6 separate regions of the Homo sapiens genome follow, and regions 2, 3, 4, 5 and 6 are each reported to be linked to region 1. Evidence: microRNA targets listed by miRTarBase, many of them from high-throughput screens and not tested one by one. Region 1 holds a microRNA gene; each other region holds the end of a gene's coding sequence.
Evidence for each region. Region 1 holds the annotated microRNA hsa-miR-335-5p (UCAAGAGCAAUAACGAAAAAUGU, at 2,953-2,975, opposite strand). A microRNA usually pairs through its seed, bases 2 to 8, with sites in the 3' UTR of a target mRNA and lowers its output. Matches are read on the target gene's strand: a 7mer-m8 pairs with bases 2 to 8, a 7mer-A1 pairs with bases 2 to 7 and ends in A, and an 8mer does both.

Region 1 (5,304 bases):
GATAGGTTCTTGGAAACTTCGGCTTTAAGCAGAATGAGGTACAGCAGGTCCTTGAATAACATCCTTTCTTTAAAACATTGATGAGAAAAAAAATTGGTTCCATTATAACGTTTCATTTAAAGTCACAGTTTCCAAGAACCCATTGATGACATTAAGTAAGGATTTTCTACACTAACATCATAGTAGTATTAGAAACACTTGTGGCTTTTTTCTGTATCTTCAATCCTACACTCTCATAACCTATTGCAGTTGTTTCAGATATGGCAAACAGTCTTTACACTCCTCACTCCTTCTGATATAGCTGTTACTAGGTCCTCCACTAGAACTTGCTATCTAATGCATTGAAAAAGCACATGTGACTATAATGCAGCTTTTTATTGACTATGTAAGTAAAGTCACTATCCTTTGTAATGCTGTTTGTTTCTTTATTTTAAAACATTCTGAGAAAGGGTCCATAAATCTTGTCAGACCACCAAAGGAGTTGATGGCACAGAAGAGGTAGAGATCCCATAGTTTAATTATGTCTACTTGAAATATTATCAGATTACCATTTAGGTGCCGCTGTATCTAAAGATGGCCCTTCTAGATTACACCCACTTTCTACCTACCGCCAAGGCAATTACCTCCATTTGACAGACAGAGACTCTTTATGGTAAGCCGACCAGATCGATTCTGCTTGTACCTAGAAGGGAGACGAGGAAACACACATGTAGCTGAGCAAACTTAAACCAGTGCACCGCTGAAAACGAGAGAAAAAGGATACAAACAGTCCAGAAACAATGTACTTTCCTAGCATCATAAGCTGAAGTCTGAAGCTCCACTGACCTGTAGAGAAGCTCCTGAGCAACAATATCTCCATAGTCATGAGAAAGAAGGTTGATCCTGCGGTTCTGGAGCCCCAGATGCCGCAAAAGCGCTTCCACGATGCTGGCCTGCTCAAATATGGAATAGTGATGTGGTCTCTGAGGAAAGGAAAGCCCACATACACAGGATGAAGTCATGAGGACAGCTCTCTCTGCCAGCCTGACCCTCATAGTCTGCGTCTGCCCCCACACCCCATCACCAGCCCCACATAGGTGCTGCTTACCGGTTTGTCACTGAAGCCAAAGCCTAAGAAATCAAGGGCAATCACCCGATGAAACCTCAAGGTCAGACCTTCCCAAATCTACAAGAAAGAAACGATGATTTGGGCTTTCTGCTCCTGCCCCTCCCTTTCACCAGACCTACAGTTGCACAGGAGCTTCAGCCCTATCTTGGCTTAACAGACTTCCATAAAGAGAAAACGCCATGAAACTACCACAGGTCCCACAGATGATCCTCTTGGAAAATGCTTTATTCCTGGTAATTAATCCCTGTTGAGGGAGGGTAACTTGGCAGTGATCCCTTCCAGAGTGCCAAGGAGTTGTTTATTCCCTTCAGTAAATAAGGAACAGTTCAACATTTAATGTTTTTTTAAAAGCAATTCAAATGTGCAAGAGCCTTCTGGTGCTGACAACAAAATCCTTGAGGTTTTTTAAATTTTTATTAAAAAAAAATTTTTTTTTGAGACAGACTCTCGCTCTGTCACCTAGGCTGAAGTGCAGTGGTGCAATCTCAGCTCACTGCAACCTCTGCCTCCCGGGTTCAAGCGATTCTCCTGCCTCAGCCTCCCAAGTAGCTGGGATTACAGGCTTGTGCCACCATGCCTGGCCAATTTTTATACTTTTAGTAGAGATGGGGTTTTGCCATGTTGGCCTGGCTGGTCTCAAACTCCTGACCTCAGGTCATCCTCCCACCTCAGCCTCCCAAAGTGCTAGGATTTGAGCCCCCGCGCCCGGCCGAGATTTTTTAAGACATAGTAGGACGTAGAAGTCTGACTTCATTACCTTGTACCAGTCGTAGCTGGATGTTGGAAAACCGTGTAAAAGCACAACTATCTCTGGACTTCCAACCACACCCACAGAGTCTAGGAAGAAGGAAAGTACAATCAATTATGCCAAATCCCTATAAAAATAACCTCGAAGATGTTAAAATCTAAGTAATCTGATACAAAGAACAAGCAACTGTGACCAAATTGACATTAAAATGACACAATTATTTGTAAAATGTAAGCTTAACTGCGTTAGGTGAGAACAGGCCTTTTCTCCTTTCAATCTGTATATTAAAACATTGTAAAAATCATGCTATGTGAAAATACTTGAAGGCACCTTGTTTACTTTCACCTAGGTGTTTTTAAACAGCATCTCCCCATTTCTCCTTTTGTTCTGTAATATGCAAATTTTTTCAGTGAAAAGTAAATTTTCAGTTAAAAGCATATGATCACAACACATAAACTACAAATTCTTTGTACTTTATCATGAATGGCCTCACAGAAATTCTCTAAGATACAGCAACTATTCCCAAGGAACACCTTTAGCTTATGCTGTTTGCTCAGCACTTTTTATTCAGCAGGAGACCCAATCTAACATCAAAAACATAATAAAACTATTACAAAATCCTGTCAACTATAAAAAGGGCTTAATCAACATAAACATGAACTTTTTTAATGCATATGACAATATGGAAGCATTCAGCATCATCTAAATTAGGTAAACATTTAGACAATATTAACCTTGCTAATAGTATGGGATTAGAACAGGTATATTCATATACTGCCAGTGACATGAAAATTTGGTAATAAGGTTTTCAAAAATAATTTAGAAGCAGTTAAAAATTGTATATACTTTAGCCTAAGAGTTTTGTTCTTGAGAATCTGTGCAAATAAAATCATTCCATTTATACAAGTAGTATAGTTTGAAAATGTAAGGAAAAAATAAACTGTATGGACATGAAGCTTTTACTTCAACATTAGTTTTCTAAAACAGTAAAACTGGAAGTAACCCAAGCCAACATAATAAAAATTGTATACTTACTTAATTGAATATAGCAAATGAGAGGAGGTCAGGAGCAATAATGAAAAACGGTTTATGACAAACATTTTTCGTTATTGCTCTTGACCCCCGCTCAAAACAAATCATTTCCAATCTGTTTCTCAGTTTCTTCACCTATAAAATGAGGTTAATGGCACCTATCTCCAAATGCTGTTGTAAAGATTAAACAATGAAGGCTGAAAACATAACTCAGTGCCTGGCATATGGTAATTACTTGATAAGTAGTGGTCATAATAATCATCATCACTAGCAAATTAATTTATATAATGGTATCAAGACTTAAATCACAGTTACACTACAAATAATCTACAGAAAAAATGAAATCAGGGATGGTAAGGAGAGAGAACCAATGGTGGTTATATCTATTAATATTTTATATATTACCTGACAGGTTGCTCAAAAAAAAAAAAAAACTAATATTGGAATACATATCAAGCTACAAAGAAAACTTATACTAAAAGGTAAGGTCTGCAGGTTGGAATCTCAGTCCCTACCCCCATTCTCCCAGCAGTTTTCTGCGCTTCTCTGCAAGCACACTACACAGAAAGAGAGAGAGATACTCTCCTCCATCATTAAGGAGCAACAAGAGACCAATAGCCACAAAATAAATACCTCAGCTGGGACTTATGTGACCGATACACGCAGGACTTCCAATAGTCCACTTCTTACCTTGGTAGAAGATACGCAGTCCCTTGTAAGTGAAAAACTTGCCTGAAGACTTCCATGAGTGAAGGGCAGGGGAGAGCTGAGGGGGTGGGATGTGCAGGTACGCAGCAAGCAGGGGCACGGCCAGCAGCCCCACCTGGACCCACCACTCCCTCATCCTGTAGGAAAAGCAGAGACCCACTGTAAGCAGTCAGGTAACATTGTCCACTCATCTACAAACCAAAACCTGGTAAGATGGGGTGGGAGATTGCTGTTACCATGCAATGATTACATTGCCCTTCACATAGGCACAAAGCTGACCGAGACTATAATCAAACCTCTGTCTGCCATAGCACTCACCATATTTGTTCATCATTCTAATCTTAAGGAAAAAAAATACATTATTTCAACATATAATCTTCTGCCTCTGCTCCCCGACTTTAACCCCTTAGCCCCTACCCTTGTGGTCTTCCCAATACCTGCTGAAGAGGACTTTATATAAATAAAAGGGACATGACTTAAATGCTGGACACTCTTTCGTTGACTTTTATCAAGGCTTCCCAGGAAAAAAATAACTTCTTTCTTATTTACTCCAAAAGCTCTACCATCTACCCACTACCCCCAACCAGTAAAATGTTCAAAAAATATATATGTGCTATATCTCATGTTTTAAAGAGTGTGTGTGTGTAGTAACTTATCACATGTCCTCAAGCAGAGAGCTACTCCTGATTTTCAGCCCTCCTGCCTAAATGAAGCCCCATTTAGTACTCCTTTCTGGATTTGGGCTGAGAAACTGCTCAGGGTAAACAGTCTGTGAAAGTAAGATAGCTGCACTGTGTATTCCAACATAAGCAGCTTTGTCATGACCCTGAATATCTAATCTCTTGAGAGGTCAAGGCGGTAGATTACATTTCTGCTTTTCTTAGCAGACTCTTTAAGTTTCCATTTAATTTCCTAAGATGCTCCCCCACCCCCAGATAAGGCATAACTCATACCCAGCGTGTGAGAATTGATTTTGTCTTTGGAAAAAGAGCACTGGTTGGTACACCCAACCCTCCCATGCCCAGGACTTCAAAGGCACAAGTCAGTTTATCCACATTGACAAGGAGTGCCAAACAGGAATTATAAACCGTTCTGTTTCAAGTCTATGACTTCTGATGGTCAACAGATCAAGAATTGTCAGTAGAATGGAAGTTCTCTCAAAACAGCCAGAATGGAAATAATACCCTCCAAAACTAAAATTAGAGTTGTCATAGAGCTGAAATAAATTAATTGCTAAAGCCCTGGGGGAAATGGCTTTCCGTCTGTACACACATTCTTCCCTATTGCCTGTAATCTACCTACCCGTTCGCTAACTTCCTCAACTTACAAGATACTTTTCCCCCCCATATCCCTGATACTTTTTGCTAAAATCTAAAAACAAGCCTGTGGTTTTACAGTGGTAAAATAACCATGTTTCTTAAACAATGTCAGCTCCCCAGGCTATTTTTTAGGCATTATTAGGGCAGTCATTTCTTTTTTTCTCCAAAGTACCTGTCCATAAGACGGATAGAACCATTTGGTCCTACTTCTCAAGGTAATACTAGAAATGGTTCAAAAAAGTGCCAGAACATGATGGTTATATCACAGTTTTCACCCAACAATAGCAGGCTGTATCCCAGTATCTCCTTGAAAGGTCAGATGACAAAAACCATTAGGTTTTGACGATCATTTGCCCAGCCCTATCTGTCCTGTACTTCAATGTATACAT
Region 2 (5,304 bases), not on the chromosome of region 1:
TCTTTGTCGTCTTTGACCCAACAAAGCTGGATGTGGGTCTAGAGCTGGAGATGCTCTTCCGCCAGTTGAAGGGGCGTGAATCCCAGATAAGGATCATCCTGAACAAGGCTGACAATCTGGCCACCCAAATGCTCATGCGGGTTTACGGGGCCCTCTTCTGGAGCTTGGCCCCTCTCATCAATGTCACAGAGCCCCCAAGGGTTTACGTCAGCTCCTTCTGGCCACAAGAGTATAAGCCGGACACCCATCAGGAACTGTTCCTCCAAGAAGAGATCTCCCTCCTAGAAGACCTGAATCAGGTGATCGAGAACAGACTGGAGAACAAGATTGCCTTCATCCGCCAGCACGCCATCCGGGTCCGCATCCACGCCCTCCTGGTTGACCGCTACCTGCAGACTTACAAGGACAAAATGACCTTCTTCAGTGATGGAGAACTGGTCTTTAAGGACATTGTGGAAGATCCCGATAAATTCTACATCTTCAAGACCATCCTGGCAAAGACCAATGTCAGCAAATTTGACCTTCCCAACCGCGAGGCCTATAAGGACTTCTTCGGCATCAATCCCATTTCCAGTTTCAAACTGCTCTCCCAGCAGTGCTCCTACATGGGAGGTTGCTTTCTGGAGAAGATTGAGCGGGCCATCACTCAGGAGCTTCCGGGCCTCCTGGGTAGCCTCGGGCTCGGGAAGAATCCAGGTGCTCTCAACTGTGACAAAACAGGGTGTAGCGAAACACCAAAAAATCGCTACAGGAAGCACTAGGTGGTGGAGCGGTCCTTGGGTTCCTGTTGGTGAATCAGCTTGTGTCCTAACTGTCTGAGAGGTCCTGGTTTATTAACCCTTTGAGCCACACTGGCAGGAATTATTACACAGTGGAGAGTTGGGAGTTCATTGAGGCCAGGGGTCGGGGCAGGTGTGTGGGTCTAGGGAGGAGAGTGGAAACTGTGAATTCCTGTGTGCTTGTCTTGTTGCTTCAATGAGGAGGCCTGATTGAGGCAAGTCAGCCTCCACCTGCTTTTCCTGGGTCCTGTCTTGGAAGGACAGAGAGCAGCTAAATTCTAGTGTATCTTAAATCAGTGAGGGTCAAATAAGCTAAAAGCAGCTGAAATTCCTTTGTTCCCTGTGAGCTGGGAAAACAGCGAAGGCCTGAGTCGTAGAGATTGTCAGGTCCATTTTGGCTTCTTTCCACACCCACAGTCTCGCGTTTGTTCCCCAGCCCTCGGCTGCCTCTTAACTTTGGGTTGACTTTCAACAGTGAATAGTCTCTTGGGTCTGAATATACCTGGGTTTGTTTTTGTGTTTTTGAGACGGAGTCTCGCTCTGTCGGCCAGGTTGGAGTGCAGTGGTGCAATCTCAGCTCACTGCAACCTCCCCCTCCTGGGTTCAAGCGATTCTCCTGCCTCAGCCTCCTGAGTAGCTGAGATTATAGGCCTACCACCATGCCCAGCCAATTTTTGTATTTTTAGTAGAAACGGGACTTCACCATGTTGCCCAGGCTGGCCTCGAACTCCTGACCTCAAGTGATCCACCCGCCTCGGCCTCCCAAAGTGCTGGGATTACAGGCATGAGCTGCCGCACCCGGCCTCCACCTGGGTTTTGAGCCAATCCCCCGGACTTGCTCCTGGTTTCCTCAAGGGGTGGGGCAGTGGTTTAGGACACTCGACAACTAAGAACAGGAGTTCCCAGGAAGGACAAGGATCTGCCTCCCCCACTGCCACTTCTCTGATGTGTTCCTCAAAGCTGGCTCGAGGGCTCGATCCCTTCATCGGACCCAGGAGGGGACTGGTTGGTGTATCCAGGTAATTTACTCTTGGAAGTGACTGTAGTGAAGGTCGTGGAAGGGCTCAGAGGGTTAATTGGTTTGCAGTGCGTCTTTGTCTATTGCATGTCTTGGAAAACTCAGATCCCAAAGGCGCTGGGTTTCAGAGAGGACAGTGGAGACCTTGCTCCTTTTCCTTAGGCCGCCAGTCTCTCAAATTTCAGAGGAGGCTGTTTCCACAACTCCCCTGTGGAAACACTTGGCAGCGGAGTTGCTCCTTTGCAGTTTCCACACCATGGCTTTTCCTTTCCTTTCTTCTCCATTCCCTGATGCATCAACACTTACTTGGAGCAATTTCCTAGGAGTCAGAACCAGCACCAGCCACTCGGTGTCGGTGGCCACCAAGGCTTAACATTGACCTTCCCGCCTGACCTTGATGCAGATGTCCACTGAACACACCGCAGGAAAGCCAGGGCCTTCAATACCAATAAGTGTGAATATGTGTGTATGTTGTCCAAGAGAGATTAGGGAGATCACATAGACTCTAGGGAGTAGAGAACTTGTAACAGTCTTGCAAGGCTAGCATGCACGGCTCCACAGCAGGTGGTGGGGAGCAGAGGGGCAGGACCTGCAGGGAAGAAGCAGCCTTTGGATGGTGAAATGTGCATGGTGCACAGTCTGTGCATGCCCAGGAGACCCAGCCCGGGCTGCCTCGAGGGGCTCCTTTGTACACAGCCAGCCGCTTCTCTTGGGAACAAGCTGTCCTGGGGGCCTTACCCACGAGGCAGGAGTCAGGATGCACCAGCTCAGCACCAGGAAGTCATCCTGGACCCAGGACAGTGGAAAGGCAGGCAGAGGGAGAGGCACTCTGAGGTCAGGCAGGGTAAGCCAGTTGGCAGTCAGGTTAGGTCTATGAGGAGAACCTCGAGTTAGGAATTCCCGGTTCTCAGAATTGTTATCACTCTGGTGCATGCTGTCACAGGGGCCGTTGCGTTTGGCTTTGTGGAGGGCCTGGACCCTTCCACAAGAACACCCGAGGTTCCAGGGCACTCAGGACAATGTTTCCAAGGAACGAGTCGACCAGGAAAGAACAGTGAGTTCTGCAAGGGGCATCCACGGAGCCTGTGATAGGGGCTGATGAGATGGAATCTGTCCTGGACTTTTCTTCTCATTAACCACCCTCCGCAAACCCCAGAACCCCTCGCCTCATCTCTGTACTGTCTGCCCTCTTGGGGGATGGGCCCTCCCACTTTCCCCTGCCTGCTCCTCCATGCTGTGAGCTGCTTTGGCAGATCTGTTTTTCTGTGTAGTCAGGGGAAAAACAAAAAAAGATGCACAACTGTGTGGGCATTGTCATAGCTGTTGGTGTCACCACTGCTTTGGGGGAAATGGCTGGGATGAGGCTAATACATTCATGCAATATTTATATTTTCAGGGGGCTGCGTTATCAGCATGCTCTCCCTGCCTTGGGCTTTTCTTTCCGTCATGTTTTCCTTTTCGTGTTCCTTCTCTGATTTCTCTTGTCTCTGCTGCTCACAGGCCTGCCCATCAGTCAGTACAGATACTCAGTGTCTGGTTTCTGGCCAGCTCCGTGGAGGGGGCTTTAAGCAGAATTCTGACTCTTTGGGGTGGGGGATTAGGAACTGGGGGAAACTTAATGATCCAGAGATTCCCCCAAGAGGAGTGTCTGGAAGGATCTGTGCCTGGACAGTGGCAGAACCTTTCCAGTGTTCTTTTGGTTCTGATTTCATCAGTCTCAATAAAGTTCCGATCTCTCTTTAACACCGCGTGCTTTCTCATGGTCTCCAGCTAGGTTACTCTCTTCATCCTCCTTTTATCTGGTAGAGTTAACTCATGTGTAAGTTCCTTGGGGAGAGACTGGAAATTAAGAAATTGCCCACCCTTGTGTTAGCTGGATGCCCCAGGACCTTTTTTGGGACTGAGGCTGAGTTGCTCTCTCAGCCGCCCAGGAAGGCGTGGTGTCCTCTGAAACTTAAAGAACTGCTCTCTCCTCAGCACCTCAATGCCTCATTCCCCTGGGCATCCACGCAGCTGCCTTAGATAACTGAGGGCTCCAGTGGAGGAGGGCACAAAGGTTTCCTGAATGGTAAGGCTGCCACCTCCCCTTGGCTTCACCAGAAAGTGTTCTCCTCCTCCACGAAGTGTGGACGTGAGCCTCCCGCTTGGACCTGTCTTTAGAGAAACCTGAACGCGTCCTTGACTCCCTGAGCCCTTTCTATCACATTTTCCTGTTTCTAGTATCCTCTTCAGAGCAGAGGTCGTTTAATTTTTATGTTTTACTTCTGGGGTCTTCGAAGGAGTTTCACATCTTGCTTGAGAACAGGTTTTTTGTTGTTTTCTTTTCTTTTTCTTTTTTTTTTTTTTTGAGACGGAGTCTCGCTCTGTCGCCCAGGCTGGAGTGCAGTGGCGCAATCTCGGCTCACTACAAGCTCCGCCCCCTAGGTTCACGCCACTCTCCTGCCTTAGCCTTTCGAGTAGCTGGGACTACAGGCGCCCGCCACCACGCCCGGCTAATTTTTTGTATTTTTAGTAGAGACGGGGTTTCACTGCGTTAGCCAGGATGGTCTCGATCTCCTGACCTCGTGATCTGCCCATCTTGGCCTCCCAAAGTGCTGGGATTACAGGCATGAGTCACTGCACCCGGCTGGTTTTCTGTTGTTTTCGATTTTTTTTTTTTTTTTTTTCTGAGATGGAGTCTCGCATTGTTGCCCAGGCTAGAGTGCAGTGGCGCCATCTCAGCTCACTGCAACCTCCGCCTCCCGGGTTCAAGCGATTCTCCTGCCTCAGCCTCCTGAGTAGCTGGGACTACAGGCACATAACACCATGCTTGGCTCATTTTTGTATTTTTGGTAGAGATAGGGTTTCACCATGTTGGCCAGGCTGATCTTGTACTCCTCACCTCAAGTGATCCGCCTGCCTCGGCCTCCCAAAGTGCTGGGATTACAGGCTTGAGCCACCACATCTACCCATTTTTTTTTTTTGAGACGGAGTCTCGCTCTGGCACCCAGGCTGGAGTGTAGTAGCGCGATCATAGTTCATTGCAGCCTTAACCTCCTGGGCTCAAGCAATCCTCCTGCTTCAGCCTTCTGAGTAGCTGGGACTACAAGCACATGCCACCATGTCTGACTAATTGAAAAAAACATTTTTTTTTTTTTGTAGGGATGAGGTTTCATTATGTTGCCCAGGCTGGTCTCAAACTCCTGGCCTTATTCCATCCTCCTGCCTCAGCCTCCCAAAGTGTTGGGATTAGAGATGTGAGCCATCTTGCAGGTAGACAGCGGGTTTTGAAAGGGAAAAAACTGGGCCCTGGGGAGAAAGGGAGAGTCTGCAGTCCTTGGTCTTTGAGCAACTGAGCAACATGACCCAACTAAGGCCACTCCTGTTCACCCACCCAACCCTGCGTCCCTCTTCCACCCTTTCCCGGGAGAAATCCAGAGCTCTTGCCTGGAAGAAGGAGGACTGTTTTAAAGATAAATGTTAAGTAATATGCCAGAATCTGCCTCAAAATTGTACTGTTTCACAAGC
Region 3 (5,304 bases), not on the chromosome of region 1:
AGATGGACTTTTTTCCACTCAGCATAATGCCATTGAGATCCAGCCAAGTTTCTGTGTGTATAAATAGTTTGTTTCTTTCTATTGTGGAGTTTAACATTCACCTACTGTAAGACATTTTGGTTGTTTTCATTTTGGGCTATTACAAATAAAGCTGCTAAGAACAAGCACATACATGATTTTGTGTTGACTTAAGTTTCCATTTCTTGTGGATGAACGCTCAGCAGTATGACTGCTGGGTAGATGGTAAGTGTGTGTTTAGTTTTTAAATAAATGGCCAAACTATTTTCCAGAGTGGGTGCACCATTTCACATTCTTACAGCAATATATGAGAGATCTAGTTTCTCAATTCCTCTCCAGAATTTGGCATTGTCACTCCTTCCTTTTCTTTCTCTTTCTTTCCTCTCTTTTCTTTTCTTTCTTTCTTTCTCTTTCTTTCTTTCCTTCCTTCCTTCCTTCCTTCCTTTCTTTCTCTCTTTCTTTTTCTTCCTTTCTTCCTTTTTCTTTCTCTCTGTCTCTGAGACAGGGTCATGCTCTATCATCTAGGGAGGAGGAGTGCAGTGGCGTGACCTCAGCAAACTGTCCACCTCCCTGGGTCAAGCCATCCTCTTGTCTCAGCCTCCCAAATAGCTGTGACTATGTACAGGCACACACTACCATGCCCAGTTAATTTTTGTATTTTTTGTAGAGACGGGGTTTCACTATGTTGCCCAGGCTGGTCTCAAACTCCTGAGCTCAAGTAATCCACTCGCCTTGGCCTCCCAAAGTGCTGGCACTATAGGTGTGGGCCACTGCACCTGGCCCTCAGTTAAAATTTGATTTTCGTGTGCTTCTTCTTCCTCTTTAGGGAGATTTAGCAAACTGACACAATGGGGACTGGCTACCTAAGGACAAAGATAAGGAATTAGCTAGAGTAGCGCTTAAACTGCAGGAGAGTGGTATAAATAAAAAAAAAATGATTGAGGTGAGTCTTAATTATTTTAGTTTCTTTTGCTAAGGTTTAGGACATGCCCAGGAAAAAGAAACACAAAACCACAGGAACATCTGTGATCTGTGCTTTTTCCAAAGAGGATTTGGGAACTTCAATTTTTTTTTTTTTTTTTTTTTTTTGAGAGAAAGTTTCACTTTTGTTGCCAGGCTGGAGTGCAGTGGCATGATCTCGGCTCACTGCAACCTCTGCCTCCCAGGTTCAAGCAGTTCTCCTGCCTCAGCCTCCCGAGTAGCTGGGATTACAGGCATCCGCCACCATGCCTAGCTAATTTTTTATATTTTTAGTAGAGACGGGGTTTCACCATGTTGGCCAGGCTGGTCTTGAACTCCGACCTCAGGTGATCCACCTGCCTCGACCTCCCAAAGTGCTGGGATTACAAGCATGAGCCACCACACCCGGCCTGGGGACTTCAATATTTAAAGTGGGGAAAGGAGTGGGCAATAGGAGAAAGAGGAAAGAAAAAAAGGAGGAGAGTAAATAAAAAGGGAAAGTGGTTGCATTCTTTTGAGGCTTTGATCAGCTTTCAGTGAATCTACATTTTACATGTGAAAGGAGAGGGTAGAGGAATAGTCAACTATGCAATCATCTTGCCCTCAGTGAATTTGCATTTTTTTTTTTGAGACGGAGTTTTGCTCTTGTCACCCAGGCTGGAGTGCGATGGCCGGATCTCAGCTCACTGCAATCTCTGCCTTCTGGGTTCAAGTGATTCTCCACCTCAGCCTCCTGAATAGCTGGGATTACAGGCATCTGCCACCACACCTGGTAAATTTTTGTATTTTTAGTAGAGATGGGGTTTTACCATGTTGGCCAGGCTGGTCTCAAACTCCTGAGCTCGTGATCTGCCCGCCTTGGCCTCCCAAAGTGTTGGGATTACAGGGGTGAGCCACCGTGTCTGGCCAGATTTGCATTTTTACATAAAATAAACTAAACATCTAGTAGAGGAAAGAGTGAAATAGGCATTTGTCTCAGGTGAGCAGAGGGATGACTTCTGGTCCTGTCTTGTCCAGTACCTGTGAAGATAAACTGTTAATTACATTGCCAGGGTGAAACTCAAGCAGAACTGTTTTAGGGTAAAGATCTTGGGGCCCACAAGGAATTTCCTTGTGGCCAAATTGTGAGCAAGGCCTGCTGGGGAGGTGTGTAGACTTCTAAATCTTTGCAGCTACATATTTAGGAACAAAATAAGGGGCAGTTTGGTGTGACTCCATTCCCAAGCCTGACTTTTCCCTTTAGCATAGTGAGTTTGGTATCCCAAGATTTTTTTTTTCCCTTTCTCAGTGGGTAGAACCAGAGAACTTTCTAGAAAGAACTTGGTTGGAATATATATACTATGGCCAAACTCCCCAGTCTTTTGAGAGGGGAACAAGTGTTTGTAATAAAAGTCTCTCCTTCCACCTCTGGTGCCGTTTACTGTGTGTCAGATAAGTCTTAGTAAAGCTGTTTTTTTTTTTTTTTTTAGAAGAAAATATCTGTCTCCCTTTTACCCTCCCCACCTTTTACTTTGCTCTATACACCTCTGATATCATTTGAGTCTTTTACAATAAGATAGAGCTTATGTATTTTTGAGTAATAATAAGCATGAGAATTTTCCAAAAATCTTTGCCGCCCAAGTAGTCACAGGTCCCCATTCACCATACTGTAATGAATCCTTCCTCCCTCCCTCCCAAGTCCACTGAAGAGTCATTAAGTCAGCCCCAGGGAAGGGAAGGAATGATGTAGAGCAGGCAAGGGATAGACAGGACACAGAGAAATGGGGCCCACTGTAATGAGAGAATTTGCCTTTTGTTTTGATAGAGGATCTCACTCTGTCATCCAGTCTGAAGTACAGAGGCATGATCATGGCTCACTGCAGCCTCAACCTCCTGAGCTCAAGTGCAGACAAAAAATAAAATTATAAGCCACTCCCCGCCCCCAACCATCTGAAGGGTCCCCTCCTCTCAGCCAGGGCTTTCCAAAGTTAACCTGAAAAACTGGTTCAGGCCATGCTGTGGGAAGGGAGAGTCGGCCATGCCTCAATATACCCGCCTCCCTTTTGGATTTTGGGAAAAGCTGACCAGCATGAACATCAACACAGACCTTAAGTCTGATAAACATTTACAATGTATTCTCTCTGAAGCCTGCGACATGGTGGCTTCATTTGTGTAATAAAACTTTGGTTTCCACAATCCCTTATCATCGTAACCCAGACATTCCTTTCTACTGATTCCAGGTCTTTAGATAATAACTCTTTTAACCAATGGCCAATCAGAAAATTTTTGAATCTACCTATAACCTGGAAGTTTCCTCCACTTGGAGTTGTCCTGCCTTTCTGGACTGAAACAATGTACATCTTACATGTATTTGATTGCCTCATGTCTTCCTAAACGGTATAAAACTAGGCTGTGCCCCGACCACCTTAGGCACGTTTTCAGGGTCTCCTGAGGGCTGTGTCACACACCACGGTCACTCACATTTGGTTCAGAATAAATCTTTTCAAATATTTTACAGAGTTTGACTCTTTTTGTGGACATAAGTGATCATCCCACTTCAGCCTCCCAAGTAGCTGGGACTACAGGCGAGCGCCACCATGCCAGGCTAATTTTTGGATTATTTTTTTTTGTAGAGATGTAGTCTCATTAGGTTGCCCAGGCTGGTCTCAAACTCCTTGGCTCATGCAATCCTCCCACCTCTGCCTCTCAAAGTGCTGGGATTACAGGTATAAGCCACTACAGCAGGCCCATAACTGGAGAATTTGGAGTCTGATTTTTCTCATTTGGCCATACTTCCTAGGGAAATTTTAGAACCCCAAAACAGCAGCCTTAAGATTGGGCTGGGAGTGTTCTGGAGGAGGCTAATGCTAGTTACTTCTGCTAGCAAGGAGAGCTAGCATATTAGAGTGAAAGGAAAATCAGACTTTACGTCAAAATATGTAAGTTCTTGCCTTGGCTCTGGCCATAGCTAAATGTAAGAAACTCACTGAAATTTTCCAGATCTCAGATTCTCTTTCTGGAGAATGTGTGGTTTGGAGAAGATGAATTTTAAAGGCTCTTTCAGCACTAAAATTCCACTTCTAGTGTTGAAACATACACAAATCACAGCAGAAATGTTTATTAGTAACGCCTACTGCATACAAAAATTATAGCAGAAATTGTATTAAAAATGTCAAATACGTTCATAGTATCTCTGTATTCTCCCTCAAATTCCCATCTACTCCTCAGCTTGTTGAACCTCAACAGTAAGAAGGCTCCCAGTCAAAAAAGATGTCCTCAGACCCAGGCCCAGAAGTGCCTTCTTAGGAAAAGTGAATAAATGATGGCAGCAGCAATGGCAGCAGTAGCTGTAACCCCCAAACAGGAATGGGAAGACAGGTGGCCCCATTTTCAGTCTTTCGAGGTTGAGTGAGCAGCTGATGTGGGCACGCTTCCCTCACAAACATGGGTCCTACTGCTAAGATTCCAGACATCAGCCTGCAGCCAATCATGGCTGTACAGCCTTTGACCTCCACAGACGACTCAATGCCACCTATAGAACAAGGAAGGATCGGGAGAGACAGAGATGTTTTAGGACATCAGAGGAGAATCCAGTCCCCCCTCATCCCTGGAGAGCTCAGTGTCAGAATCTCTGGGGAGCCACTCAAATGGTTTTCCAGCCTCTGAAACTATCAGATGTTCATTTCAGTTTACCTCCAGTGATCTCAAGTTTTCCTTGATAGCATCGAGTTGTACCATTGGGACAGGGAAGAGAAGGAGCACTGAAACAGGTCCCCAAAGCCACACAGGTTGGACAATGGAGGGTTGTTGACACAGTGGAAGCTGGAGGGAAATGAGAGAGACAGTTAAGGGCAGGTCCTGCCTCCAGAGATGTTGCTCCTTGCTGCCTTCTCTTCCCCAAGATTTTCCTGCAGATGCCACTCTAATCAAGGCCCATTACTTCAGCCTCCCCATCCTTCCCCAGCTGGTGTTCTCTGCTGTGAAATCTCCATCGATCTGACTTCCAAACTCTGCTGAGGTGTGAAGATACAGAGATGAAAAGGACATAGTTCCTGTCACCTGGCATCTCTGCCTAGGAGAAAGACATGTAAGTAATCAATTCAGTAGCTGCTGTGTTCAAGGTATAATGACAAAGGAATGGAGGAATACCCAACTACCTAAAAGAATTTGGCAAATATTTTCAAAGAGCTGATACCTGAATTGACATGGAGGATGAACAGGGGTTAGCTATGTGAAAATGGGGTGGGGAGGGTAGTAAAGGAAACAGCAAGGACAAAGGTCAGGTGGTGTGAGCCAGCTTGGTGGATTCAGGGAATTGTGAGAAGTTGCACGACTCATATTCAGCTT
Region 4 (5,304 bases), not on the chromosome of region 1:
GGGAAATCCACCCCCATGATCCAATAACTGCCCACCAGGCTCCACCTCCAATGCTGGGGATTACAATTAAACATGAGGTTTGGGCAGGCTACACACATCCAAACTATATCTGCTTCTAAGCCCAAGATGCCCACTCCAACATTGCATCAGTCCTGTGCTGTTTCTCAAAGTTGTTTATATAAGCATATTAACTATAATCACACTTTTTTTCTGTTTATCCAGGTTAACCTTGATTTTCACACAAAAGAAGTCATTACAAACAGCATCACTCAACCTACCCTCCACAGTTTTGATGCTGCACAAAGCAGAGTGTATCAGCTCATGGAACAAGACAGTTATACACGTTTTCTGAAATCTGACATCTATTTAGACTTGATGGAAGGAAGACCTCAGAGACCAACAAATCTTAGGAGACGATCACGCTCATTTACCTGCAATGAATTCCAAGATGTACAATCAGATGTTGCCATTTGGTTATAAAGAAAATTGATTTTGCTCATTTTTATGACAAACTTATACATCTGCTTCTAACATATCGCATGTTTATGTTAAGATTTGGTCCCATCCTTTAAACTGAAATATGTCATGTGAAATTATTTTAAAAATGTAAAAACAAAACTTTCTGCTAACAAAATACATACAGTATCTGCCAGTATATTCTGTAAAACCTTCTATTTGATGTCATTCCATTTATAATCAGAAAAAAAACTTATTTCTTAATCAAAAGGCAGTACAAAAAAAGTAATAATGTTTTATAAGATTGTAGAGTTAAGTAAAAGTTAAGCTTTTGCAAAGTTGTCAAAAGTTCAAACAAAAGTCTAGTTGGGATTTTTTACCAAAGCAGCATAATATGTGTTATATAAACATAATAATACTCAGATATCCAAATGTTCAGATAGCATTTTTCATAATGAATGTTCTCTTTTTTTTGGTAATAGTGTAGAAGTGATCTGGTTCTTACAATGGGAGATGAAGAACATTTATTATTGGGTTACTACTAACCCTGTCCCAAGAATAGTAATATCACCTCTAGTTATAAGCCAGCAACAGGAACTTTTGTGAAGACACATTCATCTCTACAGAACTTCAGATTAAATATAATCTAGATTAATGACTGAGAATAAGATCCACATTTGAACTCATTCCTAAGTGAACATGGACGTACCCAGTTATACAAAGTACTTCTGTTGGTCACAGAAACATGACCAGATTTTGCATATCTCCAGGTAGGGAACTAAGTAGACTACCTTATCACCGGCTAAGAAAACTTGCTACTAAACTATTAGGCCATCAATGGCTTGAATAAAAACCAGAGAAGGTTTTTCCCAGGACGTCTCATGTTTGGCCCTTTAGAATTGGGGTAGAAATCAGAAATGAGATGAGGGGAAGAAGCAAGGAGTCTAAGGCCCTAGCGATTTGGGCATCTGCCACATTGGTTCATATTCAGAAAGTGTTATCTCATTGATTATATTCTTGTTAAGCAAATCTCCTTAAGTAATTATTATTCAAATAAGATTATACTCATACATCTATATGTCACTGTTTTAAAGAGATATTTAATTTTTAATGTGTGTTACATGGTCTGTAAATATTTGTATTTAAAAATGCCATGCATTAGGCTTTGGAAATTTAATGTTAGTTGAAATGTAAAATGTGAAAACTTTAGATCATTTGTAGTAATAAATATTTTTAACTTCATTCATACAGTTAAGTTTATCTGACAATAAAAGCTCTGACTGAATGTTGATTATCCTTCCTATTATGTAATAAGGAATAAACATTTTCTTCTTTTAGAGTAATATTGGGATAGAAAGTATTAATTGAGTTATTGTATCATTGATCTTAATGCTATATCAGTTGTTTAAATTGTTGTGAATATAAAAACAAAGTATCTTGGGTTTCAAAAATCAACTAAAAAGGTGATTTTTATGTTTTCCTTAGTTAATTCCTATTTTCTTTTTCTGTGGCAGTCTCTTTCCATAGAATTTAATTGTTTCATATACAGACTTAAGACTCGACACAAACTTTGCAATCTCATCAGAAACATCATGGGCTGATTTTAATAGCATTGTTCTGGTACCACAAATATGTATCATGTAGCTTTTCCGTATGTAATACTGTCCAAAATCATCCAATCTCTTCATTAAATTATGAAATATTCAATGAGATGCTTCAAAAACATACCAGGATTTCTTCATAAAATTAATGACTGACTTCAAAAAGTTTGCACTCTCTGGAGGAGACAACATGGACAAATACAGAAACAAGATAAATAATTGGACAACTGAAAGCAGCCAAGCACAGATGCACAGAAAGCACTGAGTGTTGGCTGAATGATGGCAAAACGCACAAATTGAAACTAGACTTGAAAGCCTCAGTGTGCGAGCCCCCTAACTGGATGTGGGATCCTCAAAAGTTTATATAACTTCTAAGGACTCTTCCATCCACGTTCGTTTTAAGATAAAGACTCAGGATTTCTACTTTCTAGTGTTCTTTATGGTCTCCACACTCATTAATTCTAATTTGTTCACTTGATATTCTCCGAAGCAAACCTTGACTTGTATCCAAGTAAGGAAAAGAGGCAAATAAGTATAATTAATGAAGGAAAACTTAAGATTAAAAATTAATATGGGATTTTTGTCTAAGAATAGGGCACAAGATTATAGAAAACCCAGAAATACATGAAAGGAAAGAAGTCACAGGAAATAGAGCTTGATTTTTTTTTTGACCAGTCAAATGTATGATAACAATGTCTTTAAAGTACTGGATGATAAATAAAGTTGGGTTGAATTAGATAATTTGGGGCACTTTTTGAAGCCCATAAGCAATAGTAAATACCTAGGCTTCAAGTTATGTACATAATAAAAGTTCAATAAGTGATTGCAAAGTCAAGTGAAATCAAAAGGAAGTCAGAGTAGTATTTCAGCAAAGAGTAAAGTCTTTAATATGTGGTGCATTTTTATTTGAATTCTATCTCTACTAGCTACCAAGTGTACTATGTTGAGAAAGCTACCTAAATTCTTATCTTCAATTTTTATTTGTAATATTGGAATAAAATTTTCACAGTGTTCTTATGGTGATTAAATTGTAAATATTTGCAAAGTGCCAGCTACAGTGTTAACTGACTTTAGTGTGTGGATGGATTTTAGAAAGTATTCCCTGTGTTTAAGTACCACATTTTAATTATAATATAAATTTTTCTAATAATGCCTTGGTTACAAATCAAAAAATATCTTTGAGAATAATGAGATTTTGCTTGACTAAAGTATGGGGATGACTATTGCTCTCATCAAAACTTTTATAATTTGCACTTCATAAAAAATGATATTTTAGCTAAATTAAAATATGGGAACATTTTAAGCATAAGCATTTTTCTAAAGAAAAAGCTTTTAAAAAAAAACCCTTAACTTTTTAGTTATGTGCAGTGCAGATCTTCTTTAAGAGGAAAAAAAAGACAAAGCATGGTGAAGATGTATACTCTCCCCGCCCCACCTCATCAGATGCTAAGCCTTAGCTATGGCATTAACTAAATTTAAAAAGACTAATTTATTTTCATTGTGCCACATTGGCTGGTCTTATATTTAATTTCCTGGCTCTTTATCATCTGTCTAAAAAAGAAAAAAATTACCAACACAGATGTAACCACGTTCATTTAGCTATATCATTTGAAGCCTTTTCAACAATAAAAATAAAAATTCGTACAACTTATCAAAACTCATGTTCTATAACTTGAATAAATCAACAAGTATTTATTGAACACTTTCATTTGATTGCTACTGCTAGCTTCTGAGCATTCAAAAGTGAATTTAACAGTGGGAGTGACAGGGAAAGAGAGAGAAAGAAAAACTCTCTTCATAGTATATTGTCTGATAAAGCTTGCATTCTGCAATACGCAGCTGAAAGCCATGTTTTAAACTTTTCTTCGTATGTATCCCAAATAACAAATCCTTCTACGACCAATCGTGCAGATTACCATTTATCTTTTGAAGCTAGGAGTTAAGTAACTAATTTCCTCATTTATTTAAGGACAATACAAAAGATTCACTAACTTGCATATCTTTGTGCATCTTTTATAAAACAAAAGAGGAACTGAAAGTATATGTATATATAAATACATTTTATTATGGGTTTGAATTTTTTGGTCATTTTATTGGTTTTGCTCTATAAATCAACCAATTATAGAAGGGTCCTTTGAAGATGAAAAAACACAAGTTTTAAGAAACATTTACAAAATTAAATCACTTGGGAAACAATACAAATTTAGCAGCACAGGTAGTAAAATATTACATTTGGAAAATTTTTTTAAAAATCAGATTCAGCTGTGTTTTTAGACATAATTATTTAATAGTAAACATATACATTTACCTGGAATCTTACCTACTAAATTTTATAGAGTAGAAATGAACCTTTTAGAAGTAATAAGCAAAGCAACTATTTTAAACGTCAGACATTTGCTAAAACAACAGTATTAAATTTTAAATAGTTTGTCTACAGTCTTATTATTTTTTATTGTGTTATCTATCTGTAAAAAACATAAAATTGTGGGAAAAATGAAGACTGAATCATTGTTAAATGTTGATCCACTAAAAAGTGTCAAAATTCTTTTTATTGGATGCAATTTACTAGAGCAAGAAAGTGAATAAAAAACATTTGGAAAGATTGCCATCAACATGTAAAACCCAACAATCATTTTTTCAACATGGAACTGTTGTTACATGTAAAGAAACTGAAATATTGAAACATGAATCCAAGTGAGATCAAATCAGTATCAATGATAGCAGGAATAAATGTATTTAATAATCCATAGTTTGGAATATCTTATACTTCATTTATCGTTATTTAATCATAGACTCCTGTAGTTCAACAAATGTTTGCCATGCTTCACCTCTGTCCCAGTCACTATATGGAACAGTAGTGATACAAAGACAAATAAAATAATGTAAAGGCTATCACTGTAGTATTTAAATGAACGGTGTTCCTATGTAGGCAAACACAAAAATCAGTCATTTCACTATGACATGTGAAACATTGATATATAATATATCTTGACTTCCTTGTGTCTAAAAAATGGCAAGACAATTTCATGCAACGTAGCTAAACAGCAGAGTCATGTTGCTGTGCCTTCACAATATGTCTGAGTATATTTTATAATATAGGATTAGGTATTAAATTGCTATATTCATACTGAAATCTGCTTTAAAATCTCAATCTCTAGAAACCGGAATTGATCTCATAAATGAGCATCACTCACATTAGAATGCAAGCTCCCAGAAATGTATTCAAGTTACATTAATAGAAAATTAT
Region 5 (5,304 bases), not on the chromosome of region 1:
GCTACATTGCTTAGGAAACTGTCCAGGACGGGCCTGGTGGGGCTGGGGCTGAGCTGCCTCGCTGGGCAGCTGCTGTACTACTCTTTCCTCTGGAGCTGGTGGTCCGTCCTCCCCATTCAGATCTTGAGTGCCATTAGCAACAGAGCTTTGTGGTGGGCTGTGGGGGCCTCAGTAGAGGACCTGGCCACTCCCCGCATGGAGAGGGCTCTGAGTGCCTTGTTCCGAGGCCACTTTTACGGGAGTGGCTGTAGCCTGGGCAGCTTTGTCGGGGGCTTCGTGGTGATGCGCTTCAGCCTGGCTGTGCTCTACCAGGCCTGCTGTGTGGCCCTGTTGCTCTGGTTGGCCTTGCTCCTGTCCATACAGCGGAGGCTGCCCCGAGAGCGGAAAATCAAGTACTCGAAGCTGCTGTCCATGGAGGTGAGTGACACCAGTGACTCTGAGCAGGGGACAGAACAGGACTGGCTTGTGAAGGCCATGAGGGAGGAACACTCAGACTGAAAGGGCTGAGAAATCCAGAGTGTGCTGATCCAGCAAGGAACGAATGGACTGAACAAAACTCAGCCTGCTGAGGACAGAAACCTGCCCTGGACTGCTGGGAGCCGGGGAAGAGAGGATGGGTCTGTGCTGAAGGCCCAACAGGATCATCTCATTGCATGATTTTCTTTACTTTTGAAGTAAAAGGAGATTTAACTTTTTGCCAATCTTTTTTAGATAATGGAGGAAGAATACATTTGCTTTTTAAAAAGTTCCCTCTATAGTCACTATATGTTTACGTTTAAGGTTTGCAAAAGTCCTGACTCAGGTGCTGTTGAATTCAGCAATGGCTGAAGCGATCAAATCAAACTGTCAGTGCCAGGAAGACCATGGGGACCTGCAGGATTCAGTTGGCAGAGAGGGCAGCTGACTTGGATGAATCATGGCATTCCCAGGGGTCATAAAGGCATTAGCCTGCTTCTGTGAAAGCCATGCTGTGGGCAGGTAAGAATGGTAATGGAGGACCGGGCGTGGTGGGTCATGCCTGTAATCCCAGCACTTTGGGAGGACGAGGCGGGTGGATCATGAGGTCAAAAGATCGAGACCATCCTGGCCAACATGGTGAAACCCCGTCTCTACTAAAGACACAAAAATTAGCTGGGCGTGGTGGCGCGCACCTGTAGTCCCAGCTACTCAGGAGGTTGAGGAAAGAGAATCACTTGAACCCTGGAGGTGGAGGTTGCAGTGAGCTGAGATCATGCCACTGCACTCCAGCCTGGTGACAGAGCAAGACTCCATCTCAAAAAAAGGATGGTAATGAAAACAAACTCCTTTCTGTTCCCACTGGTATACAGGTGCCCACACTCACACCCAAGTACTTCCAACAGGAGAAAATAATGGGAAATGTATGTGTGTTGGGGGGGAAGTGGGAGGTTAATAGGTTTCATTCTTACCTTCTCACACATGTGTGTCCCACTTAGAATCATCATCTATATTTACATCAGAGCAGGGGCAATTTCATGTCTTTTGAACTCACATTTTGCATGCTCTGCCTCACAAAGCACATGGAGATTTTAACATCTGTTTTATTGGGGTGCAGACATCTCCATAGGTCAGGGTGCTATAGGTTCTCCATGCTGTACCTGTGCCCAGGCACTTGGTGGGGTTTTGGGAGTGACAAACTAGTGCTTCTGCCTTCCCAAACTCCCCCAGGGGAAGGGCCTGGAATAAAGGGCCATTTATTTCAGAGGCCAGTCCCAGGGCCCAATTCTTCGACCTTATCATTAGTTAAACATAGGATATTGAATTTAGAAGAAGCCTCACTGCACAAATGCAGAAAACGTCTCACAGCTGGAGAAGGGGAAGCAGATATATGAATGTCCACTGGGTCAGACATGGTTCTAGGATCTTTATTTGTTGTTGTTGTTGTTTGTTTTTTTGTTTTGTTTTGTTTTGTTTTGAGACAGAGTCTCACTCTGTCGCCAGGCTGGAGTGCAGTGGCGCCATCTCGGCTCACTGCAACCTCCAAGTCCCTGGTTCAAGCGATTCTCCTGCCTCAGCCTGCCAAGTAGCTGGGATTACAGGCGTGCACCACCACACCCAGCTATTTTTTGTGTGTGTGTGTTTTTAGTAAAGATGAGGTTTCACCATGTCGACCAGGATGGTCTCGATTTCCTGACCTCGTGATCTGCCCGCCTCAGCCTCCCAAAGTGCTGGGATTATAGGCGTGAGCCACTGCACCTGGCCCTTTATTTGTTTTTTAATTCTCCCTAAGAAGTTTAAGGTACAAATAATCAACAAAAAAATTACCTCCACCCTAAACAATAGAGATTTGTCTCATATATATATAAAACATTTAGGGGTGGGCAGCCCAGAGATGCTGCCACTGCTGGATGATGCCACTAGGGATCTAGAATCTTTTCATCTCCTCACACTGTCATACTCAGCCTGTAAGCTACCCTCCCAGATTTGTACCCTCATAGGAACAAGATGGCTGCTGCTCTGCCAAGCCTTTCATCCATGTTCCAGGCAGTAAGAAAAGGGGAAGACAATAGGGCAAAGGGAGAAACAGGAACAAGTGTCTGTATCAAGAAAATAGGCTGCACGGTGGGTGGCTCACGCCTATAATCCCAGCACTTTGGGAGGCCGAGGCAGGAGGATTGCTTGAGCCCAGGAGTTGGAGACCAGCCTGGGAAACATGGTGAGACCTTGTCTCTTAAAAAAAAATAATAATTAGCCAGGTATGGGGTGTGCATCTGTAGTCTCAGCTACTCATGAGGCTGAGGTGGGAGGATAGCTTGAGCCCAGGAGTTTAAGACTGCAGTGAGTTGTTTGTGCCAATGCACTCCAGCCTGGGTTACAGAGCAAGACCCTGTTTCCAAACAAACAAACAAACAAACAAACAAGAAAAAGGAAAGATAAGCCTTCCCAGAAACTCCTCAGCAGAGAGAACCGTGTCACATGGCCACCCAGCTGCAAGGAAGTCTGGGAGGAAGTATTTTCAACTAGGCACAGTTACACACCAAGCAAAATCAGGGTTGCGTTAGGAAGAGGGGGCTGGATATAGAATTGGCAACTAACGACATCTGCAGCGGCCTCCACGATGGAACTCACAGCCGGGTCCAGCTTATTGCAAAGCCTGCATTCCTTTCACCCCACTAAGCCAGCTTCCCCGACAGAAATGACTTTAGTAATGTGACCCCCACAACTACTCTATGAATAAATCAAATTTGTTATCTGCATTTTACAAATGAGAAAGTGTAGTCTCAGAAGTCACACACTGGGTCACTGGCAGAAATACTACCAGAGTCCTGGATTTCCTTACTCCAAATTTGGGGCATTTTCTTCTGTGCCGGTAGTCTGGCTGTCGATCCAAGTAGGAGGAGCATTTGCAAAAAGCCAGGTTCCTGGGTTCCACCAGAATCTCACAGGTGGGGCTCAGTAATCTGCATTTTTGGAGCAATCTCCGAGTGATTCTGATGTGGTTAACCAAGCACTGTTTACTCGGTTGTCCTTTCCAGCTCTATTTGTCTCAACAGTTCTTTGCCAAATGTTTCCATTTGCAGTGAAACAAATAACAACTATTGAGTGGTCACTCTAGGCCAGGCACTGTTCTAAACAAGGTACGTGGTGTACGCGTACTAGCTCATCAAGTAATCATAGGACGTAGTCACCATTAGCATCTCCAGTTTCAGATGGCAGAACCGAAGGTTCAGTAACTTGCCTGAGGTCACGCAGCTAGTAAGTGGCAGAGTTGGTATTCAGATCCAGCCTGGTGGTTCCTGGGCCTGAGATTTTAATCACTGTGCTCTATGCTGGAGAAATTGAGGGGAAAGAGGGGGGGGATTAAATATTAAGATCTAAGGTAGCCATCACTTGAAATTGACTGGATAGTAGATAATATTTACTATTTCAACAGAACATACAATAATACCAAAAAGCAAACACATGTATGTCCTCTTAAACAAAAGGATGAGGAACAGGAACTGGCTTAAGAAAAGAGTTAAGTAAGTGTGATCTAGCCTGAACAAGAGGAAGAAGGAAGAGAAAAAGAAGCGTGAGTTGGGGGGAGGGGGTGTACAGGACAAGACCGAAGACTGAGGGAGGTGATGATTGATGGATCTAAAAGATTTTAAGGGAAGGATGGGAGGCCAAGATGTTCATTTGGGCTATTTAGTTAATGTTTGACTTTATGTTTTCTTTAATGTATGAAGCCCCTTTTTCCAAAGGGGAAAAAAAAAGTTGTGCTACTTGCCATGGGGAATTCAAGGATGAATAAAATGCACAGTCCACACCCTCAAGAAGCTAACAGTCTAACTAGAAGATTTACTTACACACACACACAAACACACAAACACACACACAACACACACACACACACGGAAGCACAGGACAGTGTGGGAGATGCTGCAGAAAAAGTATTACTAGAGTTTAAGAAAGAGAACATTTCTGACTCAATAACTCAAATAAGGTTTTGTGGAGATTATATTTAAGTCTAAGTCTTCAAGGATAGGTAAAGTTTATTTATTTATTTATTTTTACTTTTGTTTTATTTATTTATTTTTTTTCTGAGATGGAGTCTTGCTTTGTCGCCCAGGCTGGAGTGCAGTGGCACAATCTTGGCTCACTGCAAGCTCCGCCTCCCGGGTTCACGCCATTCTCCTGCCTCAGCCTCCTGAACAGCTGGGACTACAGGCGCCCGCCACCATGCCCGGCTAATTTTTTGTATTTTTAGTAGAGACGGGGTTTCACCGTGTTAGCCAGGATGGTCTCGATCTCCTGACCTAGTGATCCGCCCACCTCGGCCTCCCAAAGTGCTGGGATTACAGGCGCGAGCCACTGCGCCCGGCCTAGGGTAGGTAAACTTTTAACAGGTAAAGTGAGGGTGGTAACCTAGGAGAGGGCATTCTATGACTATATAAACAAAGCTGCAGAGGTGGAAAAAGCATGAAGAATACTTGGAGGGTAGCAAGACATACAGTTTGGCTAAAGCGAAGGATTTGTGTAGGATGGTGCTTAAATGCAAGGCTGGAAAGACAGATGGGACCAGGTCATGAAAGGCCTTGATCCTGTAGACTTTGGATAAGCCATGGAGGGCTCTGGTCAGGGTCATAAGAGGCCACACTGAGCTTTTTTTTTTTAAGTAGCTTTATTGAGGTATTAACATATAATAAACTGCACATATTCAAACACCGGTGAAATGCCTCCTGCCCTTTATAATCCCTCCTCCGTAGCGTGCTCCATTTTGGTCCCGGGCAACCACTGATCTACTTTCTGTCACTGTGTGTTAATTTGCATTTTTAAAGACTATAGTATGTCCTCTTTTATTCT
Region 6 (5,304 bases), not on the chromosome of region 1:
ATGATTTTTTCTCATTTCACGTTTAAGAAAAGTGCAGCTCTGAAAGGTCAATGCTAATTAGATAGCCCTGACTTTGTGTCAGTCAACATTCTAAGCCTTTCATATGTAGTTGGTCATTTGGCAATCATAGAACCTTGTGGGATGGAAAGTATTTATATCCCCATTTTACAGATGTGGAAGCTGAGGCACAGGGGGATTAAGTAATTTGCCCAAAGTCACAAAGCTGGTAGATGTCTTAAGTGAAAACTCATACCCAGTTCTTGTTTGACTCCAATACTAGAAGGCCCATTAAACATTATGCTCCTCTGCACTTCCTGAGCCTCAGGGGATCCTTACAATATGTCTATTCCAAGTGTCACTTCATTCCAAGCCCAAGTGACCCTCTGTATTCTTGCTCTTGATGATTGGCCATTGGCAGTTTATCTATCCTTAAGCTTTCTTCACCAGGGTGTGTAATCCCACCTTGGAACTAAACTTTAGATTTGACCCAAAGAGTATCACAGATACCTAGATAAGTAAAACCTGCCTGTAGTGGAGGATTTTTTTTATTCCGTCTGAGAAGCTAAGATGCAACCACAACCTTCACCAAATATTATCCTTACTGCCTCAAATTTATGCCAGATTTTTCCACTAAGGCTTTAAAAGGTCAAAACAAGAATAGGATGGGATGAACCACCACCCTATAACTTGTCCTAGATATACCGTCTCTACCTAGGGACAGAAACTGAGTCATGCATTTCTCCTGCTCCCCTCCCCAGATAATATTCGCTGAGGACTACCAGCGTGTGGAAGATCTGGCCTGGCACCGAAAGCACTTTGTCTGTGAGGGTTGTGAGCAGCTGCTGAGCGGCCGGGCGTACATCGTCACCAAGGGTCAGCTTCTGTGCCCAACTTGCAGCAAGTCCAAACGCTCCTGAAGGGCTGCCCACCCACAGCCAGAATCCACAGGATCCCACCGAGAAGGAGAGCCAGGTGTGCCGAGACCATCCTAAGGGTCCGATGTGACAGCAAGCAAGTGAAATAAACAATGATTTGCTTTTCAGTGAGAATATATATATGAGATATATATAGATATATATTCTAGGTTGGGTGGTGGTAGATCCTTGAGGGTCAGTAGTTTCAAAACCAAAAATATTCTAAGAAGTCTTAGGATGGAGTTCCTTTTCTTTCTGTTGTTGTTTCCCAGCTACAACCAACTAAAGACACAAATGGCGTTCTGCAAGGGGACTCTGGGAGGAGTTTTCCAGAATGCAATTCCGAGTGAGCAAATCGCATAGCTGTAGAATGTGCGTGCTTTTTTGTGGACACAGGAGCTCCTCCAGGAGCAGGCTGGGATCCCAACTATCGCTTGTTGCCTCTTTTTCAAGTGGAATTTGAATTTTAAATAAACAACTTTTTTTGGCATGATAAACAGATCAATAAAAGTTTTGTGAATTCCACATACACCCTTATCTAATTATTTACACCATGGCAGTGATTTTGCAACACCCAGTGCTGGCAGAAAATATAGTAAAATACTAATGAGCCTCTCTATCAATGTATCTCATCAGACTTCCACTGGGAGTGTAGGCTTTGGGACAGAACCCCCGCCCCACCTGCCTATTCCAGATACTCCCAGATCACTAATGTAACAAAGGTATCATGTTTTATGGTACACTGAAAAGTGGCCTGCTGGGAACTGATGAGCTTCTCTTTAGCCAGGGACCTGACTCAGCTGCCCTCAGAGCCCAGGAAAATAGCGAATGAACCCCTCTGGGAATAAGACCAGTACTGGGAAACCACTGAACAGGGGCCACCTAAGCTCCACCAATGGGTGCCACATGGGATGTGGTGACTAATGTGGGCAGATCTTTAAAAATACAGCACTTTTTCAAATGCCAAAACAATCAGAAACAAAATTTTTTCAATAAAAATTAATCTAAAATTTAACAATGCCACTTTTATGAGAAATCTCAATTTTTAATGTTGCCAACTAAACATTGAATGAGTCACGTAGAATAGGTCTTTGGGCCAAATTGTATCTCCATTTTATGGTCTCTCTGAACATTTTCAGCTCTTAAATTAATTTCTTTCCCACAGTTTCTAAGAAAAACATATTTTTCTACTGGGAGTATAAGGATGAAAAAGACACAAGTCCTAGGAGCTTACGGTCTGGTCGCCAGTGGTTTTCTTTCTTGAACTTCCTCATCTGCTGCCAGTTTTCTTTAACCTCACCATCCAAATTTCACTCTGACCATCTCGTACCTAGAAAACCCCCATTCATGTGCTTTATAAGTTTCACCAAAGCCATTGCTATATCCTCCCAAGGCAGTGGTTTTCTGCTCCCAGCTCCTTTCTCTAGTCACCCTCAGTTTCCTCGTCATGTTCATCTTCTCAAAGATAAGTTTCAAGTGTGTCATTTCCTTCACTCAATCTCCATGGCTCTTCATTGCCTGCCAAGTTAACAACCAAGTCCTCATGGACATTTGAATCCTTCCAAAACTTGGCTTATGTCTTTCTGGCCTTGGAGCCCTTTATTTCCCTAGATTTCTAGTTCCCTATTTCTTCCTAAGCATGCAGAAGCTCCCTCTGATCAAGCCCTTCCCTTTGCTTTTGCTAGTTGAAGACTGGCTACCTGAAGACCAACTCTGGCTGTTGAAATTCTATTCATCCTATAAGGTGCTTCTCAAGCATAACCTGCTTCTCTGGCACTTTCCTGAAGCACCAGTGAAATATTCACCAATTCATCATTCATTCATCCATTCCACAAGTATTTCAGTGAGCACGGCAAAGTTCCAATTCCCATGCTGAATATAGGGGATGCGGGGTGCACAAAAAGAACAGTGACCCCTACGCCCATAGATGTTACGGTCTGTGGGGGAGATGGGCCTCAAGCAAATATTCTCACAAGTCAATGCAAAATTACACTACTGTGCATGCTATAAAAGGAAGATTTGTGTTACTATAATGCATGTAAACTGGACTTAGGAATATCGAGAGAGGTGCCCCTGGGAAAGTGATGCTTGAACTGGGCTGTAAAGGATGAGTAGCCTTGCCAGGCATAGTGGCTCAGGCCTGTATTCTCAGCACTTTGGGAGGCCAAAGCGGGTGGATCACTTGAGCCTAGGAGTTCGAGACCGGCCTGGGCAACATGGCAAAACTCCACCCCTACAAAAAATACAAAAACTATCTGGCATGGTGGCACACCTGTAGTATCAGTTACTCTAGAGGATAACCTGAGCCCAGTAAGTCAAGGCTGCAGTGAGCTGTGATCATGCCACAGCACTCCAGCCTGGGTGACAGAGTGAGACCCTGTTTCCAAAAAAAAAAAAAAAGGATAGGTTGCCTCTAAGTTGGCAAAGAGAGGAAGGACAATGGTTAAAGATGGATACATGAATGCATGTGCAAAGGCCCTGTGGTGGAAGCCCCACCAGTTTATTCAACACCTATTTGCTGGTGTTGGAGATACAGTGGTGAACATGGCCCATGGATGGAACTGAAAGAAAACTGGTGTGGCAGGAGCACAGAGCATGGTGAGGAGGGTGGGCCTGGGGCATGAGAGGCAGGCATGGCCAGCCTGCTCCAGTTCTGGGGCAATTCAAAAGACTGGTCTCTGTTCTAGGAGCAAGGGGGAGCCTTCAAACAGCTTTAAGGAGGGGGTGGTGATGGCTGGACAGGGAGATCATGAGATACGTCATCTCTTCTCTGTTGAAACCCCAGCACAATGCATGATTGACTTGGTCCACTGGGTCACACCATCATGGATGGGCATTATCTCCCACAACAGTCCCCATGGGGCACCACCCAGCACCTGCCCCTGCCTTTCTCATGTCTATTAATGACACCCACCCTTGCATTTGGAGCACCTGAATCATCTCTGCCACTTGCCTTCATATCTGATGGGTCACTCAGTCCAGTCCTTTCTCTCCATCCTCGCTTTCACTCCATCCCCAAAGTCATATCTCACCTTGAACATTTTCTGCTCAGACTGACAAGTCTCCCCGACGGGAACTCACCCTCTCCACCCACCACTTCCAGATGAATTGCTCAGAAACACACCCTCATCTTGCACTCTCCTCTTCAAGAACAATCAGGGGCTCCCTGTTGCACACACAGAAAAAAATTGAAACTGTTTTACCTTGCAGTCGAGTTTCTTATTTTTCCTGCCCCAACCCTCCTTCCTTCCTGTTATCCTTTCAGAAGCCAAATGGGCAGTTTACAGTCACAGTGTGTGCCCCTGCTTTCCTCACCTCTGTACCATCACTCACGCTGTGCTTTTTGCCTGCAATTCCCCACACTGTGTTTAATTGCTGCCTCTGCTGGGGGGCTGCAATAGCTGAGTGGGATTCTGTACCAGAATTGGAAAGATCCATGTTAACTCTTGCCTGATTCTATCTCCCATGTCAGCAGGAAGAGGGGCTGCCATCCCCACCCCTCCCACTCTCTAGGAAGACTTTCCTCCCTCACCCTTCCCTTGGGGTGTTTTAGGTGCCCTTTATCTGTAAGTTCATAATATCCCAGGCTTACAGTAATTCTTCCAAGGCCTTTATTGTGCTATAATTATTTATTCATGAAAGCCTTCCCCTATGAACTTCTAAAGAATAATCGTATTATCTTTATTTCCCCAACTCTTAGTACAAATCCTGGCAACTAAATGAAAGAACAAACAACCTGGGGTTCTGGGATGGTTCGTCTTTGCTGATGGCACTGTGTTCCAAAATGGCCAAGGTCAAATATAAAAATTTCAGACTGAGGTAGACACTGCTGGCAGCCTACACATTGCCACCACACCCCACTTCCTTCTTCCTAGTGGCAAGGAAGCAGTGGGTGGAGAGGGTGAGTTCCTGTCAGGGAGACTTGTCAGTCTGAGCAGAAAATGTTCAAAGTGAGATATGACTTTGGGGATGGAGACAAAGGGAGGATGGAGAGAAACGACTGGACTGAGAGAAGAGCCCACTCCCCTTTATGTAAATTGGCTTTGCCAACCTGGTCTGCAGCTGGAGAAAGGCCATGCGCCTCTATTACCAGCCAGTGGGGCTTCCGCCTTAGGAGGGTCTTAGAAAAGTGTTTTTCCTTAATGAAAGGAGATACTGTGCAGTAAATAGCCCTGCTGTTGTTTTCTTTTCTTTTGATAGAATGTCAAACTTACGAAAAAAGTTACAAGAAGAGAACAAAGAGCTATTAGAGGGTGTTGCTGACACAATGCTTTATCACTCTTGAATATTTTCGTGTGTAATTCCTACAAATAAGGACATTCTCCCACATAGCCACAATACAACCATCAAAATCAGGAAGTTAACGCTGATGTGTTTCTACCATGTAATC

Region 2: miRTarBase lists SRL as a target of hsa-miR-335-5p. The part of its 3' UTR that is shown has no 7-base or 8-base seed match.
Region 3: the mRNA of TEX101 is a reported target of hsa-miR-335-5p. The part of its 3' UTR that is shown has no 7-base or 8-base seed match.
Region 4: the mRNA of RGS18 is a reported target of hsa-miR-335-5p. The part of its 3' UTR that is shown has no 7-base or 8-base seed match.
Region 5: the mRNA of MFSD6L is a reported target of hsa-miR-335-5p. The part of its 3' UTR that is shown has no 7-base or 8-base seed match.
Region 6: miRTarBase lists LMCD1 as a target of hsa-miR-335-5p. Seed matches in the 3' UTR shown: 7mer-A1 at 5,193-5,199.

Annotation. Positions count from the first base shown.
Region 1 is chr7:130,493,797-130,499,100 of GRCh38, reverse strand. MIR335 (microRNA 335) reads right to left here and starts at 2,990; the gene lies at 2,897-2,990. MEST (mesoderm specific transcript) reads right to left here. Exons shown (of 12, transcript NM_002402.4): 2 at 3,579-3,733; 3 at 1,866-1,945; 4 at 1,088-1,165; 5 at 826-962; 6 at 624-682.
Region 2 is chr16:4,187,610-4,192,913 of GRCh38, reverse strand. SRL (sarcalumenin) reads left to right here. Exons shown (of 6, transcript NM_001098814.2): 6 at 1-3,540. The coding sequence ends at 761. Among named protein-coding and RNA genes, the nearest start is that of SRL, 52 kb to the left of the region's middle.
Region 3 is chr19:43,417,353-43,422,656 of GRCh38, reverse strand. TEX101 (testis expressed 101) reads right to left here. Exons shown (of 6, transcript NM_001130011.3): 5 at 4,651-4,779; 6 at 4,060-4,489. The coding sequence ends at 4,260. Among named protein-coding and RNA genes, the nearest start is that of TEX101, 5.1 kb to the right of the region's middle.
Region 4 is chr1:192,184,075-192,189,378 of GRCh38, forward strand. RGS18 (regulator of G protein signaling 18) reads left to right here. Exons shown (of 5, transcript NM_130782.3): 5 at 223-1,741. The coding sequence ends at 480. Among named protein-coding and RNA genes, the nearest start is that of RGS18, 28 kb to the left of the region's middle.
Region 5 is chr17:8,792,554-8,797,857 of GRCh38, reverse strand. It overlaps MFSD6L (major facilitator superfamily domain containing 6 like), which reads left to right. Exons shown (of 1, transcript NM_152599.4): 1 at 1-748. The coding sequence ends at 498. Among named protein-coding and RNA genes, the nearest start is that of MFSD6L, 4.2 kb to the left of the region's middle.
Region 6 is chr3:8,566,682-8,571,985 of GRCh38, forward strand. LMCD1 (LIM and cysteine rich domains 1) reads left to right here. Exons shown (of 6, transcript NM_014583.4): 6 at 759-5,304. The coding sequence ends at 917. It overlaps LINC00312 (long intergenic non-protein coding RNA 312), which reads left to right and starts at 5,101. Exons shown (of 1, transcript NR_024065.3): 1 at 5,101-5,304.